Homo sapiens: one gene and its partners. The protein of the gene in region 1 purifies or fractionates together with the protein of each later gene. This does not show direct contact. Each region holds a gene or a part of one and is shown in the gene's direction. Other genes may lie near its edges.

What was found.
Region 2: the proteins of DBF4 (region 1) and DNA2 purify together in Homo sapiens (affinity purification with mass spectrometry; one large-scale study listed by BioGRID and IntAct). This does not show direct contact.
Region 3: the proteins of DBF4 (region 1) and NME6 purify together in Homo sapiens (affinity purification with mass spectrometry; one large-scale study listed by BioGRID and IntAct). This does not show direct contact.

The regions. Positions count from the first base shown.
Region 1 is NC_000007.14:87,903,993-87,907,492, forward strand, and holds part of DBF4 (protein DBF4 homolog A), read left to right. Parts: intron 1-299; coding exon 300-424; intron 425-3,195; coding exon 3,196-3,500. UniProt on the Homo sapiens protein: Regulatory subunit for CDC7 which activates its kinase activity thereby playing a central role in DNA replication and cell proliferation. Required for progression of S phase.
Region 2 is NC_000010.11:68,465,474-68,468,973, reverse strand, and holds part of DNA2 (DNA replication ATP-dependent helicase/nuclease DNA2), read left to right. Parts: intron 1-667; coding exon 668-851; intron 852-3,161; coding exon 3,162-3,307; intron 3,308-3,500. UniProt on the Homo sapiens protein: Key enzyme involved in DNA replication and DNA repair in nucleus and mitochondrion.
Region 3 is NC_000003.12:48,295,093-48,298,367, reverse strand, and holds part of NME6 (nucleoside diphosphate kinase 6), read left to right. Parts: intron 1-1,538; coding exon 1,539-1,641; intron 1,642-2,209; coding exon 2,210-2,249; intron 2,250-3,132; coding exon 3,133-3,275. UniProt on the Homo sapiens protein: Major role in the synthesis of nucleoside triphosphates other than ATP. The ATP gamma phosphate is transferred to the NDP beta phosphate via a ping-pong mechanism, using a phosphorylated active-site intermediate. Inhibitor of p53-induced apoptosis.

The DNA.
Region 1 (3,500 bases):
ATCTGTGTCTTCGTTTTCTGACACAGCTCATTCTTTTCAGTTCCATTGTAACTACAAATTAGTACTTGTCTTTTCTCACTGAAGACTAAAAACCAAAGTAGTTTTACTGGCTTCTCAAAAGTGACTTTTATTTTATTTTATTTTAAACGTCTTTTGAAGTCTAGTAAAGGGTATTATCTTTGGAGTAGTTATTGGAAACCTAATTTTAGGGGCATGAGAATGTTAGAAAACCTTAATTAAAAAGGCATCTCTTGATTTTAAATACAATTTTTTGATACATGTTTTTAATTTTGTTTTAGCACCTTCTAAGTGAGCAACACAGAAACTTTGCACAGAGTAACCAGTATCAAGTTGTTGATGATATTGTATCTAAGTTAGTTTTTGACTTTGTGGAATATGAAAAGGACACACCTAAAAAGAAAAGGTAATTAGTTTTATCAACCTAAGTTTTAAATTCTACTAGGCGGCCAGGGGTGGTGGCTCATGCCTGTAATCCCAGCACTTTGGGAGGCTGAGGCAGTTGGATCACTTGAGGTCAGGAGTTCGAGACCAGCCTAGCCAACATGGCAAAACCCCATCTCTACTAAAAAAATAAAAAATTAGCCGGGTGTGGTGGTTGCACACCTGTAATCCCAGCTACTCGGGAGGCTGAGGCAGAAGAATCACTTGAAACCCAGGAGGCAGAGGTTGCAGTGAGCCAAGATTGCACCACTGCACTCCAGCCTGGGTGACAGTGAGACTCCGTCTCAAAAATAAATAAATAAATTATACTAGAATATTAAACTATTAAACTAAAAATAAACACAGTTTTCCTGTTCTTAGAAGGAATATGTATTTTCGGGATGTAAATATGGTTAAAAACCAGTAGCTTCTTCCCTACTATCAAAGATCCTTACCTTAGACTACTTTTAGTTCCATTCTTTTTAAATTTTCTTTTTATGTAAAACTTTTCCTTTTTTAAATTTTTTGTTTTATTTTGAGACAGTCTCGCCCTATCACCCAGGCCGGAGTGCAGTTGCATAATCTTGGCTCACTGCAACCTCTGCCTCCCAGGTACAAAAGATTCTCATGCCTCAGCCTCCTGAGTAGTTGGGATTACAGGCGTGTGCCACTACACCCCACTAATTAGTCTCATTCTTGACACTGTAGTTTAGAAGGAGTTGGCTGACTTTTCCTGTAAAGAGCCAGATAGTTGATATTTTAGGTTTTGTGAGCCGTAAGATCTCTGTTGCAACTAATTAGCTTAGCTTTTTTGTACAATGGATATGACTGTATTTTGACGCAATTTTATTTGGAAAAATAGACTGACGGCTAGATTTTGCCCACAGGCTATATAGTGTATCAGCTCCTGTTGTAGAACCATAAAGTTTACCATTTACTCAGACTAAAACATTTTATTGAACTTTTAGGTAATATTAAGGAGTTTTAAGAAAACTTCCTCCACTTGCCCCTTAGGTCTTTATATTTCACTAAATATCTTTGCCTAAACCTTATGATGGGTATGTTTACTAAAGGTACTGACAGGACTTTTAAGTGTGAATACAGTACTGCTCAATGTACACCAACTGCACATTGACAAAAATTGTCCTGATTAGATTATTCCTATAAACTTAAAGGGATGGTTTCATATGGATATACCCTAGAGGTGGTGATAACTCATTAAGTTAGTCTTTATTCTTAGACTAATCTTACTTAAGACATAAAGAAGATTAGAAATGTGATAACAAGATACAGCTTCTGAAAATTAACCAGAAAGTTTTTTTACTTCAGGTAAAACAGTTCTTAAATTCCATATTTCTGTGACATTCAGAATGGTTTCATGACTGACTTAATATGGATTTGAAGAGAAGGCATATTTCCAACTATTAAAACTATGTGGGCTACTGTGCCCAGGCAGGGTGTCTCACACCTGTGGTCCCAGCACTTCGAAAGGCCGAGGCGGGCAGATCACTTGAGGCCAGGAGTTCCAGACCAGCCTAGCCAACGTGGTGAAAGCCCATCTCCACTGAAAAAAAAAAAAAATTAGGTGGTGGCACATGCCTGTAGTCCCAACTACTTAGGAGGCTGAGGCGCAAGAATCACTTGAACCCGAGAAGCAGAGGTTGCAGTGAGCTGAGATCAGGCCACTGCACTCCAGCCTGGTTGACAGAGAGACTCTGTCTCAAAAAAAAACAAAAAACAAAAAAACTATGTGGGCTACTCTAAGAACTTATAATTCCCTAAAAACTCAGTCTGCAGCAAAATTCTGAGCTAGTACTGGTTGTTCCTTAATTGTCACTTCTGTGGGCAAGTGTCCTAAACATCTTGGACTTAAAAGCCATGTTAGAGTAGTTTTTTTTTTTTTTTTTACATTTTTTTATTGCCCATTTGTTCAAAGAGAATTGTTTGTAAGTAAATGTATGAACAAGATAAAAAAGAACATTCTGGTTGAAGGGGCAGGAAAAATTGTATTATTTCTCACAGTTAATCTGTGACATGCGGAACACAAAATGTAATTGGTGAGCTATTAACTTTTTCTCTAATTGTATATTATTTAGGTTTGTCTAATACAAACTGGAATTTCAGGGATATCAAGATGCTCCATGAAGAAAATAATTTTAGGTCAAATATGTTTGAAGCTTAAAAGTTACAACTTTGTCACCTTTGAAAGTATAAAGATACTAAGTTTCTAGCTCACTTTGATATTAAATATTCTTAAATGTAAATTTAAAATATATGTTTTTGCCATAGGTTTCTCAGTAAATACTTATTCTCCACATTGCTAAGTAAAATGAAGAGTAAAATGTGCATTAATGTAAATCAAAGCACAGAAGTTAAGAAATTGTTCAGAATAATGAAAGCAAAATTAGGGGCAGGCTCAAATCCCTTTACTATCAATTTCTTTCATTTACATGATTAAAGTAATTTTAAATGTCAAAATTCAGGATATTGGTTATCTGGGAGGGAGGCAGGGAATGTAGAGGAGAAGAGAGGTACACTAGGGTTTTCAGCTATATCTGAAAAGTTGTATTACTTTAAAAACAGCTCAAGTAAATTTGGCAAAATGTTAAGATGTTTGTATTTTTGTAAAATTTCCTAAGTTAAATAGGTTTCTTAAAGATTATATAATGTTTTTACTAATTTAATTTCTAACTACTCAGGAATTTGTTTTGATAGCAATTATTTTAATATTTTTCTTCTATTTTTCCTACAAAGAATAAAATACAGTGTTGGATCCCTTTCTCCTGTTTCTGCAAGTGTCCTGAAAAAGACTGAACAAAAGGAAAAAGTGGAATTGCAACATATTTCTCAGAAAGATTGCCAGGAAGATGATACAACAGTGAAGGAGCAGAATTTCCTGTATAAAGAGACCCAGGAAACTGAAAAAAAGCTCCTGTTTATTTCAGAGCCCATCCCCCACCCTTCAAATGAATTGAGAGGGCTTAATGAGAAAATGAGTAATAAATGTTCCATGTTAAGTACAGCTGAAGATGACATAAGACAGAATTTTACACAGCTAC
Region 2 (3,500 bases), on another chromosome or scaffold:
GGTTCAAGCGATTCTCCTGCCTCAGCCTCACAAGTAGCTGGGATTACAGGCGTCCGCCACCACGCCCGGCTAATTTTTGTATTTTTAGTAGAGACGGGGTTTCACCATGTTGCCCAGGCTGGTCTTGAACTCCTGACTTCAGGAATCCACCTGCCTCGGCCTCCCAAAGTGCTGGGATTATAGGCATGAGCCACCGCGCCTGGCCTAGTTTCAACTAGTTCAGTTTGATTTTATTCTTGCTACACTGGATTTGGCTTCATGCTTCAAGACTTATACAAGCTGTAGATTTCCTAAAAGTCTTAAGAAAGAGTAAATTATTAAAACAACCCAATTCATAATTGGAGCTATATATTACATTAGCAAAGGTTTTTTGATAGCTTTTGCAATAGACTTTACTGGCACTAAGTTGTTTTCCCTTTGGGATTTATAGAAGACCCTTGAGTATTCTCAGATGTGTTTGACACATAGAAAGGGGTAGAATAACTAGGGGTTGTTTTAGAAGACTGTATCCTGCTATTTGATTTTTTTTTTTAAAGACCCAGAAATTTAGAAATATTTTTTTCTTCTTCAGATAAAATACTCATTTATTTTTTTGAAGCCTCCCTAATACGTTTACATGTAGGAACCTAAGCTATGTATTTATACTTTAACTTTGCTTTATTTTCAGGTGTTCTGTTCCAGTAGAGCCAGGAGATATCATTCATTTGGAGGGAGACTGCACATCTGACACTTGGATAATAGATAAAGATTTTGGATATTTGATTCTGTATCCAGACATGCTGATTTCTGGCACCAGCATAGCCAGTAGTATTCGATGTATGAGAAGAGCTGTCCTGAGTGAAACTTTTAGGGTAAATAATAGTAACAGTTAATGTTTCTGCAGGGTCTGAGAGTTTTACAGAGCACTTTTACATTTATTATTTCACTTAATCCTCCCAGCAACCCTATAAAATAAATGGTATTAATTAGCTGCATTTTATAGATGAGGAAAATGGGCTCAGAGAGGTGAAGTGACTTGCCCCATAGCCACATAACTATGAGGTGGCAGTGCTAGGACTAAAGGCCAGGTGCCTGAGTCCTTCGAATCTTGTTCAGGGCTTAATAAAATAACTAATTATAATAAGAAAATTAATTTAAATGATAAACTTTTAAATTTAAACACACCTAGACATTTCCAAAGTTGGCTTCATGTGATTCCCACTAAACTAAAAATAAATGTGCAAACTGCTTTTAAAAAATGTATTTTGCTAGAAAAATTAGCCAGGTGTGGTGGCGTGCACCTGTAGTCCCAGCTACTCAGGAGGCTGAGGCAGGAGAATCGTTTAAACCCGGGAGATGGAGGTTGCAGTGAGCCGAGATCATGCTACTGCAGTCTAGCCTGGGCGGCAGAGCAAGACTCTGTGTCAAAACAAACAAACAAAAATGTATTTTGGACTATTTCAAACATACAAAGAGATGATTGTAATAAACTCCCATGTACTCAACACCCAGCTTTTTATTTATTTTTCTTGAAACATGCAGTTTTATTTTAAAATAAAAAGTCTCAAAAAAAAAACGTATTTTGGGGCTGGGCGCAGTGGCTTACGCCTGTAATCCCAGCACTTTGAGAGGCCGAGGTGAGCAGTTCATGAAGTCAGGAGTTCAAGACCAGCCTGACCAACATGATGAAAACCAGTCTCTACTAAATACACAAAAATTAGCCGGGCGTTGTGGTGCGCGCCTGTAATCCTAGCTACTCGAGAGGCTGAGGCAGAATTGCTTGAACCCTGGAGGCGGAGGTTGCAGTGAGCTGAGATCCCACCACTGCACTTCACGGTGGGAGATAGAGGGAGACTCCGTCTCAAAACAAACAAAAATGTATTTTGGGCTATTTCAAACATACAAAGAGATGATCGTACCCAACACCCAGCTTTTTATATATTTTTCTTGAAACGTACTTTTATTTTATTTTGAGTCTCACTGTGTCACCCAGGCTGGAGTGCAGTGTGTCACTGAAGCCTTGACCTCCCAGGCCACCTCAGCCTCCCTAGTAGCTGGGACTATAGGCATGAGCTACTGTGCTTGGCCTGAATATTAAGTTTTAAAAAACTTTTTGGACCGGGCGCAGTGGCTCACGCCTGTAATCCCAGCACTTTGGGAGGCCAAGGCTGGCGGATCACGAGGTCAGGAGATCAAGACCATCCTGGCTGACATGGTCAAACCCCATCTCTATTAAAAATACAAAAAAATTAGCCGGGTGTGGTGGCGGGCGCCTGTAGTCCCAGCTACTCGGGAGGCTGAGGCAGGAGAATGGCGTGAACCTGGGAGGCGGAGCTTGCAGTGAGCAAAAGTCGCGCGGCTGCACTCCAGCCTGGGTGACAGAGCGAAACTCTGTCTCAAAAAAAAAAAAAAAAGGTCTAGGCTAATACAAGAGTTAATCAAGAAATGTAGTGTTTCTTTTTGAGTGGAGAAAAATTCCTTGCCAAAAATCTCTGCTGTAGGTTAAAAAAATTTTTTTTCTTCCCAAACATTACTGCTAAGTAGGTTTACATTTTATGTTTGAATGGTATCTTTTACTTACATGAGTTTATCAGCTATGCCTTTATTGACTTTTCTATTGGGTGGATTATCAAGTGAAATAAGAGAACAATACTTTAAATATTAATTATTTGAGAATATTTTGAATTTTAAAATATTGGTTATTTTAATTTTTTTCAAAATGGAGAACATTGATTTTAAAAGTAATTCATATCAGCCTGGCCAACATGGTGAAACCCTGCCTCTACTAAAAATACAAAAAATAAAAGTTAGCCGGGCATGATAGCACACACCTGTAATTCCAGCTACTTGGGAGGTTGAGGCATGAGAATCATTTGAACCTGGGAGATGAAGGTTGCAGTGAGCTGAGATTGTGCCACTGTGCTCCAGCCTGGGTGACAGAGCAAGACTCTGTCTCAAAAAAGAAAAAAAAAAGGATAACTCATACAGTAATTCAGACAATTCTGGATAGAAGAAAGTGAAAGTCACTTATAATTCCACGCACCAGAAAAAAATTTTTTTAATATTTTGGCATTTGTCTTACCAGTGCATTTTGGCTATGGTGGTTTAATAGATTAGGTAATAAATATACAATTGTGTCTGTTAATATGTTGTGAAATAAACTGTGTGATTTGCTTTTGTAGAGCTCTGATCCAGCCACACGCCAAATGCTAATTGGTACGGTTCTCCATGAGGTGTTTCAAAAAGCCATAAATAATAGCTTTGCCCCAGAAAAGCTACAAGAACTTGCTTTTCAAACAATTCAAGAAATAAGACATTTGAAGGAAATGTAAGTAGTTATAAGAAGAACTGCAGGTATAATTTTATTATATAACTTCTGTCCTAGAAACTATAAAGTATTTGTGTAGACTATCCAATATAAATTAGTGTAATCTAAAATGCAGATTTCATAGTTCTAGTACATTGTTGGAACTCTGTGAAGAGTTTCTGAAATTGCTCAACAGGAACTTTTTGGGTAAAAA
Region 3 (3,275 bases), on another chromosome or scaffold:
CATTGGGCCATTTATGGTGACTGACAACACAGACTTGTGCTGGATGCTGTGGAGGCAAAGCTAGAAGCCATGAACTCTGACCTAAGGAGACTAAGAATCCATTGGAGACTTGAGGCAGACCTAAAATGTAAGAAAGGACCCAAAGCAATAATAGAACCGAATATCAAGACAATGTGTATTTGTTAGTTTCTATTGCTACATAACACATTACTCCAGACTTGAGAGCTTAAAACAACACTTATTTGTTATTTCACAGTTCAGTAGTTTAGAGGTCCAGTAGGCTTGGCTGAGTTGTTTGCTTAAGGTCTCACAAGGCCAAAGTCAAGGTATTGGCTGACCAGGTCCTTATCTGGAGGGTCTGGGGGAAGAATTCACTTCCAGACTCATTCAGGTTGTTGGCAGAGTTGATTTCTTATGATGGTAGGACTGAGGCTGCCATTTCCCTGTTGGCCTTCAGGCAGGAACTCCTTTCAGTTTCTAGATACCACTCACATCCCTCATCACATGGCCCAGTCTGTCTTCAAGACAGCTGCAGTGCATTGAATCCTTCTCATGCTTTGAATCTCTCTGACTTCTTCAGCCTCTAGCCAGAGAAAATGCCTGGCATTGAGAAGCCTTCACAATTCTAATCCCACAGGGCTCATGTGATTAATTAGGCCCACCTGGATAATCTCCCTTTTGATTACAGCAGAATCAACTGATTAGTAACCTTAATTTCCCTCAAAATCCCTGTTGTTATGTAATGTAACATAATCATATTGCATCATATTCACAGTCCTGGAGATTAGGGTGGGAAATCTTGGTGGGGCTCGGGGTCATTTTCACATTCTGTGTACCATAGTTTGATAAATACTAACTGAGTAGCACTGCTAAGTAAGCCCACTATGGTGCAGAGGAAGATCTAAGCAGTCAGGAGTGGGGGCCTGGAAGTGGCAGGACTCAGCTGGGCCTCAAAGGAATGGTAAACTTTGGTTAGTGCCAGGAGAAGGACAGGTGTTGCACAGAAGGGAGACGCTGAGGCAGGAATGCATGTGATGGGTCTGAGGGCCGCAGGCAGCCTGCGATGGTGAGACTAGAGAATTGGTACAGAGTAAGGAAAGTATAACCTTGAGCACTGGGCTAAAGTGGTTGTACTTCATTCCTTGAATAACAGGAACTACTTAACACCTTCTGACCAGAGTGTGACGTGTCAATTATAGAGTTTCTCATCTATCAAGTGTGATGGTTTGGAGGGAGTGAGAGAAACCCAAGGCAGGACCACTAACAAGACTTTTATGGTGGTCTGAGTGGTGGGTCCTGTGGTCTTGAGCTCAAGGGGTTATAGGTATGGAAGAGCAGAGACAGCGCATCCTATCCCCTTTCACCCAAGGTGCACACTCTGGCTGTGTGACTGAAGGTCTTCACCTCACCCCACCTCGTCTTCTCACCCTTCAATGGGACAAACCCTCAGGTCCTGAGCAACAAGTGGTCCTCATGGTTTCTTTTGGTCAGTTTCAGTCTCCTGATTGATTTTTATTTTGGGGATGGTCTTTATTCAGGCTGTTCATCAGCAGATTCTAAGCAACAAGTTCCTGATTGTACGAATGAGAGAACTACTGTGGAGAAAGGAAGATTGCCAGAGGTTTTACCGAGAGCATGAAGGTAGGATCAGTAGTCCTCTGAATGGAAGGTGCCTCAATCCCAAGAGGCCATAAGAGAGATTTTACCTGGAACACAATGGCAGGCTCTCTGACCTACCAACCGTGTACAGTTGCAGCCAGTTTTCTAAAATCTTGGTTTAAAACACACACTTTTCATGATTATCCATCTTTTCCCAAGGAGGGTTCTACCTTGTAGTCCCAACCAGAAACTTAGTTTTATGTCTTGATAATATCAGTAGTTAACATATAGTGAATGAATGTTTACCATCAGACATTGTCCTAATGCTCATTTTTTCATTCAATTTTCCCAACAACCCTAAAAAGTAGGTGTTGTTATATCCCTCGTACGCAGATTAGGAAGCCAAGTTTAGGAGGTTAATGATTTACCCAAAACTACGCAGGTTGTAAGTGGCAGACCCTGGATTCAGACCCAGGTTTGTCAGACTCCAAGGTCCTTGTTCTTTTCTCTGAAACAATTTTTATTATTCTAGGTAAGGAGGTAGAAGTACAGAAAGTTGCCTTGGGCACCAGGATGAAGGTATCTTGATGAAGGTCCTCTCTCTTTGCAGGGCGTTTTTTCTATCAGAGGCTGGTGGAGTTCATGGCCAGGTACTTCAAATTTGGTTCCAGCATCTTTATCCACTGAGGCTAATCTCCCCTGCCCCTAAATGGATTTGTTCATTTCACTGCCATTCTTTAAAGTTGTAATCAGGCCAGGCACGGTGGCTCATGCCTGTAATCCCAGCACTTTGGGAGGCTGAGGCGGGTGGATCACTTGAGGTCAGGAGTTTGAGACCAGCCTGGCCAATGTGGTGAAACACCGTCTCTACTAAAAATACAAAAAATTAGCCCGGCATGGTGGCAGGTGCCTGTAATCCCAGCTACTCGGGAGGCTGAGGCAGGAGAATCGCTTGAACCTGGGAGGTGGAGGTTGAAGTGAGCCAAGATCGTGGCACTGCACTCTAGCCTGGGCAACAAGAGTGAAACTTCGTCTCAAAAACAACAACAACAGCAAAAAATTAGCCAGGCATGGTGGCGGGTGCCTGTAATCCCAACTACTCGGGAAGCTGAGGCAGGAGAATCACTTGAATTCAGGAAGCAGAGGTTGCAGTGAGCCGAGATTGAACCATTGTACTCTAGCCTGGGCAACAGAGTGAGACTCCATCTCAAAAAATAAAGTTGTAAACAATGTCAAATCTGAAGAAACACGGGTTTGGGGCTGTCACTGAGCCGATGCTGACCTGTTAGGCACCTGTCCTCTGGTGGTTAGAAGAGTCCCCTTGAATGCTGCATAGCCACCCTGCTGATCTCTGCAGGCTTGATGTACACCAGCAGGGGCCCTGCATCACCTATTTGAAGCAGCATTGGTACTCAGCTGGAAAGGCAGGAAAACTCTCAGAACGTAGAGTGTGTTTTTATTCAGGCCCTGCTCACAGCACACCCTCCTAGTCTAGATGGCCAGGTTCTTTACATGTGCTTGTTTTGTTCACAGCGGGCCAATCCGAGCCTACATCCTTGCCCACAAGGATGCCATCCAGCTCTGGAGGACGCTCATGGGACCCACCAGAGTGTTCCGAGCACGCCATGTGGCCCCAGATTCTATCCGTGGGAGTTTCGGCCTCACTGACACCCGCA